Linked DNA regions of Homo sapiens. The protein of the gene in region 2 purifies or fractionates together with the protein of the main gene of each other region. This does not show direct contact. Each region holds a gene or a part of one and is shown on either strand. Other genes may lie near its edges.

The links.
Region 1: the proteins of ODAM (region 2) and NISCH purify together in Homo sapiens (affinity purification with mass spectrometry; one large-scale study listed by BioGRID and IntAct). This does not show direct contact.

Annotation. Positions count from the first base shown.
Region 1 is NC_000003.12:52,490,086-52,493,568, forward strand, and holds the end of NISCH (nischarin), read left to right. Parts: coding exon 1-146; intron 147-619; coding exon 620-748; intron 749-1,266; coding exon 1,267-1,428; intron 1,429-1,786; coding exon 1,787-2,397; 3' UTR 2,398-2,983; downstream 2,984-3,483. UniProt on the Homo sapiens protein: Acts either as the functional imidazoline-1 receptor (I1R) candidate or as a membrane-associated mediator of the I1R signaling.
Region 2 is NC_000004.12:70,201,901-70,205,076, reverse strand, and holds the end of ODAM (odontogenic ameloblast-associated protein isoform 1 precursor), read right to left. Parts: intron 2,820-3,176; coding exon 2,748-2,819; intron 2,322-2,747; coding exon 2,160-2,321; intron 1,922-2,159; coding exon 1,892-1,921; 3' UTR 1,863-1,891; exon of another isoform or gene 1,862-1,862; intron 903-1,861; 3' UTR 501-902; downstream 1-500. UniProt on the Homo sapiens protein: Tooth-associated epithelia protein that probably plays a role in odontogenesis, the complex process that results in the initiation and generation of the tooth. May be incorporated in the enamel matrix at the end of mineralization process.

The DNA.
Region 1 (3,483 bases), on a different chromosome or scaffold from region 2:
GGAGCTGAGGCACCTCATGTGGTCCTCGGTGGTGTTCTACCAGACCCCAGGGCTGGAGGTGACTGCCTGCGTGCTGCTCTCCACCAAGGCTGTGTACTTTGTGCTCCACGACGGCCTCCGCCGCTACTTCTCAGAGCCACTGCAGGGTAGGCACAGGGCCTGCTGGGGCTCAGGAGCTTGGAGTGTGTGGTTGGGGCAGGCCTGGGGGGTCATTCTCTGGAGCCAGCTGTGTGGCTTCAGGCAGCAGTCAGCGACTTGGCTGCAGTGGGCTGAGAGTTCCTTGTCTGAGGAAGGGAGCTGTCATGAGGGAGGGGTCCATGGCCAGATGTGAACGCAGAATGCACTGAGCCAGGGCCTGGTGACTGCTTGGGAACAGCCAGTGATGAGAAGGGGTTAGGCAGCCTTTGCCCCTGGGGCTGCACAGGAAGCCCTAGCCAGCGACCTGGTGACTCCCCTGAGCTGGAAGAGGCTCCGACTCCAGAGGGCATTGCCTATGGGGCTTTGCACGGGTGGAAGCCAGGCCAGCCAAGAGGACCTGTTCCTGCTGGATGTGCTGCACACCTAGGAACCTTGTGCTTGCCTGCCACCGCCTCCCTCTGTCCCTTTCTCCATCACACAGATTTCTGGCATCAGAAAAACACCGACTACAACAACAGCCCTTTCCACATCTCCCAGTGCTTCGTGCTAAAGCTTAGTGACCTGCAGTCAGTCAATGTGGGGCTTTTCGACCAGCATTTCCGGCTGACGGGTGGGTGACCCTCTGTGCTTTGTCCTATTTCGGGTGAAGGCCAGCATCACCAGTGGGCTTCCACCTTCCGTACGTGGGTGGGTTATCATAGACAGTTATCTCTGTGCTCAAGAGCCACTTCTTAACCGGGGTGGGAGGAAGCAGCTTCAGGAACTGCTGAGAGAGCAGAACTCACGCTCCAGGGCTCAGAGCAGGAGGTAGGGTGTGCGGCAAGCGCTGGCCCGGACAGAAGCAGAGTGGGCCCTGGTCTCGGGCAGGATGTTTCTGACTCACATTTCCTGAGGAGAGAAAGCTAAGCTCTTTGCCTAATGTCTCTGTCTCCCCTTCCAGAAAAATGCCTCAGCTCTTCCGGCCTGAAGGAATGGCCTCCTCCCGGGCCCCATGATTCTTTCCTGTGTGGGCCCTCCTGGCCCTGGCCTCTGGGCTGAGGCTTGCTAGGGACTCGGGGTGGCTCTAAGGGGCAGGGATAGGGCTGGGGAGCGCCGGCCTGTGGCCCTGACCAGCCCCTTCTCGTGCAGGTTCCACCCCGATGCAGGTGGTCACGTGCTTGACGCGGGACAGCTACCTGACGCACTGCTTCCTCCAGCACCTCATGGTCGTGCTGTCCTCTCTGGAACGCACGCCCTCGCCGGAGCCTGTTGACAAGGACTTCTACTCCGAGTTTGGGAACAAGACCACAGGTACCCCTGTCTAGCTCAGGCTGCAGACAGGCTGCCTGGACAGACGTCATGGGCCCCAGGGTGGCTCTCTGTGCCCCAGAACCCTCTCTGCCTCTATGTCTCTCTTTTCTCACTTAGCTGGCCAGGGTTTTATGTGGGGCTTTTCGATGGCAGAGTCTCCACTCCAGCAGTCCCTCAACCATCTGGCAGACACATCTCCAGTGCCTGCTTTGGGCTCCTGGCCTGTGGGCCCCACACTTGGAGCATCCTCTCCTGCCTGTCTCATGCCGGGGTCTCTCGGTTGGCTTGGGGCCCTTGGTGCTCCCAGCCCCACCAGGGGCCGGTTCCAGGCTATAGCCCAGGTGGCATCTCTCTGCAGGGAAGATGGAGAACTACGAGCTGATCCACTCTAGTCGCGTCAAGTTTACCTACCCCAGTGAGGAGGAGATTGGGGACCTGACGTTCACTGTGGCCCAAAAGATGGCTGAGCCAGAGAAGGCCCCAGCCCTCAGCATCCTGCTGTACGTGCAGGCCTTCCAGGTGGGCATGCCACCCCCTGGGTGCTGCAGGGGCCCCCTGCGCCCCAAGACACTCCTGCTCACCAGCTCCGAGATCTTCCTCCTGGATGAGGACTGTGTCCACTACCCACTGCCCGAGTTTGCCAAAGAGCCGCCGCAGAGAGACAGGTACCGGCTGGACGATGGCCGCCGCGTCCGGGACCTGGACCGAGTGCTCATGGGCTACCAGACCTACCCGCAGGCCCTCACCCTCGTCTTCGATGACGTGCAAGGTCATGACCTCATGGGCAGTGTCACCCTGGACCACTTTGGGGAGGTGCCAGGTGGCCCGGCTAGAGCCAGCCAGGGCCGTGAAGTCCAGTGGCAGGTGTTTGTCCCCAGTGCTGAGAGCAGAGAGAAGCTCATCTCGCTGTTGGCTCGCCAGTGGGAGGCCCTGTGTGGCCGTGAGCTGCCTGTCGAGCTCACCGGCTAGCCCAGGCCACAGCCAGCCTGTCGTGTCCAGCCTGACGCCTACTGGGGCAGGGCAGCAGGCTTTTGTGTTCTCTAAAAATGTTTTATCCTCCCTTTGGTACCTTAATTTGACTGTCCTCGCAGAGAATGTGAACATGTGTGTGTGTTGTGTTAATTCTTTCTCATGTTGGGAGTGAGAATGCCGGGCCCCTCAGGGCTGTCGGTGTGCTGTCAGCCTCCCACAGGTGGTACAGCCGTGCACACCAGTGTCGTGTCTGCTGTTGTGGGACCGTTGTTAACACGTGACACTGTGGGTCTGACTTTCTCTTCTACACGTCCTTTCCTGAAGTGTCGAGTCCAGTCCTTTGTTGCTGTTGCTGTTGCTGTTGCTGTTGCTGTTGCTGTTGGCATCTTGCTGCTAATCCTGAGGCTGGTAGCAGAATGCACATTGGAAGCTCCCACCCCATATTGTTCTTCAAAGTGGAGGTCTCCCCTGATCCAGACAAGTGGGAGAGCCCGTGGGGGCAGGGGACCTGGAGCTGCCAGCACCAAGCGTGATTCCTGCTGCCTGTATTCTCTATTCCAATAAAGCAGAGTTTGACACCGTCTGCATCTTCTAAACCAAGGGTCACTGGGATCCCAGCAGGGCTTCCGTCCAGGGCGTGGTCACATGGGGGAGGGAGGGTGCCCTGGAGACAGGAGGGTGAGGGGTTGGGGGAAAGGAAGGAGCAGCCCTCCAGGAGCCAGATGCTTCTTGGAACATGGGAGGCATGACAGGGCCATGGCCTCTCTGGACAGTGCCATGCTGGGCTGTGGCTAAACCATGAGCGCAGGGCAAACAAGAAACTCCTCAGGGCACCCCTGACACACCAGCCGCTGCCCCTCTGCCTGGGTGCGGGGCATGCCACCCTCTTCAGGCTGTCCTGCAGGTCTTATGTGTCAGTCACCCCTGGGCCCAACCCCACCTGTTTCACAACCCCTGTTGAGAGTGGGGGAGGGGCGAGGAGGACAGAGAGATCCCAGAGTCTGAGGTGGCTGGTGGGGGCCGGGGCATCTCACCAAGGTGGCCCTTGAATGGCAGCAGGGGAGGTCTGTGGGGAGGTGGACC
Region 2 (3,176 bases):
TCTCCTTGCTTCCCACCCCCAACAGGCCCCTGTGTGTGATGTTCCCCTCCCTGTGTCCATGTGTTCTCATTATTCAACTCCCACTTATGAGTGAGAACACGTGGTGTTTGGTTTTCTGTTCCTGTGTTAGTCTATATTTTATTCTTGAACTAATGCTGTTTTATTTAGATAGGAAACATCCAGTGGAGAATAGTTGGTAGGGAAAGTTTTGAGAATTACCAAATGTAAGCAAAGCTGATTTTAGAGAAATTATTCTAGATTGAAAGCCAGATCTGATGAAACCCAAAATCTCCACCTTATTCTCTACAGGATGCTGCCTCCCCCAAACAAGCATACACTTTCCTATCCTTTTGAGTAAGGACAGACACCTCTCTATGTGACTGTGTCATATTAGGAATAAGCACTTTATGATATCTGCCACCAAATAATTTTGATTGTCATGAGAATGTCTCAGGAGGAAACTGACTAAATGGACCTTAGGGAAATGAAGAGATGACATGTCAAATCTAGATACTTATTTTACTTCATCAGTTCCAATCACAACACTCATCATACATCCAATGACAATATACATATCTTCATGGGTACTACCATTTTGCAGAGGCATCATTTACTAATGCAATTATCCAATTGATTTAATGATACTAGCTTTATTCTGTGTTATTATATTCCATATTATACAATGATAGGATATTTGAAGAGACATATAATTTTGTAAGACAAGACTCATTACATGATTGTATTATTTTCTATGACATATTTAAAGAGTTTAATAACATGTATAAGTAAAAACAAATTTAGGAGAAGAGTCAAGATATTTCATGTATTCCAAAGAACTGATACTAGTATTGAGGAAGCTAATAGCCTAAAATTATATCCAAGGCATGGCCACATCTTTTTCCCTGAAAAATATAATAGAAAAGCATTTTAATATCATTGGACTGCTTTGCATAAAACATCCTAGATATCTTACAAATTGCTTATTAAAGAAATAGAAAGCTTTTCTTTCACTGGCATTCATACATACAGAAAAAAGGTCATAAAAATACTGAAATCTCTTTAGTATTTCTTACTGAATAACTTGATTTGCCTTGTACAATATAGTACATTAGTAAGGAGGCTTTCCTAAAGAGGTATTATTACTGTTCACTTGGTTGTGTTTTTATAAACTTTTTTCATCTGAAGAATGCTGCGTGCTCATTTTTATGGAAGGAGAGATCAAAAGAGGCTCACAGGCAGCAGGGAGGAGATTTCAAAAACTTTGTCTTTTAGTTTGCCCTTCAAGTTAAATTGTTTGCTTTTCAGTGTGTGTTTTTACTTTTTGGTGCTGTTCCCAGACTGCCCTTCTATCAAACTCCTATTGTGGCCTCATAGCCAACCAAGCTGATTAAAACAGGTAATTAGTTCAAGATTATGTCTGATATAAAAGTCATGGAATTTGAAATTTTCTTTTCATTGTACAATTTCTTTATCATTTTGAGATTTTTACTTAATTTCAAACTAATACAGATATATTGGAATTATTACAATGTTTACTTGCAAAATGAAATGATGATTTGGGAGAATTGATTCTGTATGGAGTGTCTATAGAATGTCTTTTACAATGGACCTAGAATATCTAGTATTTGTGTTTTCAGAGAGTATACCAAACTTATAGGCAGACATGATTCTCAAAATTTAATTTTGTTTTTAAAAATTGTTGAAGTCCATAATTATTATTAATTTTATAGGTATATATAGCTAACTTGTTTTTATAACTACTTTGGTAAGAACTCCATTAGCTCCTCTGCCAACTTTTTTCTTTTGTCTTCTTATGTAGGAATTGTCGTGGCACCTAATTCTTGACTTTGGCAAATACCTACCAAAATGTCTGAATGATCAGGGCAACTTCTTATGGTTCCCTTAGGCTGTCAGTCTTGTCCTAGTGAGAAAAGGACATTCATAAGAAACTGTTATTAAATTGAAATTAAATTATATTCTGATTAATTGATTATCAAAAACAAGTTTTGGCCACCTTATTCAGAGTTAAGACCACATATTTTTCATTAGTTATCTTCTTAATTTCATGACTAAGTCCTATAAATTAAAGCACTAATTTTATCACTGTATTTTTTCATTAGACAATTTTTTTGCATAAAGTGAAGTTTTCATGACTCTACCTTCTCTTCTGGGAGCTCTGGGGTAATAGTTTGGTCTACAGCAGAAGTGAAAACATTGGTTGTGCTGGGTTTTGGTGAAGTTGAGGGCATGAAAACTCCTGCACTGTCATGTCTAAAGTTGATCGCTTCTTTTTGTAAATATGGTATCTCTTCTCCTGTTGACTACAGAGAATGAGAATGAAAACAAAGTTGTCGTAAGTTCAACAAGAAGGCCAAAATTGGGAAGAATGTAAAGCAACAGGATTGAGATGTAACAAAAGCATTATATTAAAAAAAGAGTTGCTATTATTAGTATTTTTAGATTATAAGCTACATAAAAGACCATGAATATATACCAGCAAACATTGTCTCTTAATATCTGCTTTTAAATAAAGGTGCATCAAAGAGTACCTGGCATAGCATACTTAAAAATACTGATGAACTGAGTAAGAGTGAACTGAATCTTTACTGGCAAAATATTGTAAGAAGAAGAAGAAGCAAAAATTATTGATGGAATTACAACAGAGTTGATATTAAAATGAACATTAGTGCAGTAAGTTGTCAATTGTTGATTTCCAGTAGCTGGCAAAGTGTTGTAAGGAATCTTACCATCACAGCAATTTCAGGAGCTGTGCCTAGTTGGGGATCAAAAGCTAGTTGCTGCTGTCCTCCTGATATAGCCTAAAAACACAAAAAGTTTTAAAAAGTCTAAATCAGTGATCGTTGAAAATATGCTCTTTGGCCACCCAGAGTACCAGAGTAGTAAAACACTCCCAAACTTCTTAAATTATTTTGCTAAAAACAGAAATAATAGTTTAATTTTTGCTATTAGAGAACTGGCTTGACATCTCGCCTCTGCTTCTGTTCTGAAAGTGCTACTTTCTAACATTCTCTACTAGGACCAGGTACTTACCTGTTGAGCATAAAGAATTCTACAGAACACCAACATCAGAAGGGGTGGAAAAAACAAGACAATTTCAAAATTTTGTCTGAAGTAAGGTCACCATACAAGTTACGAAAATACCAGGTGTTCTCACA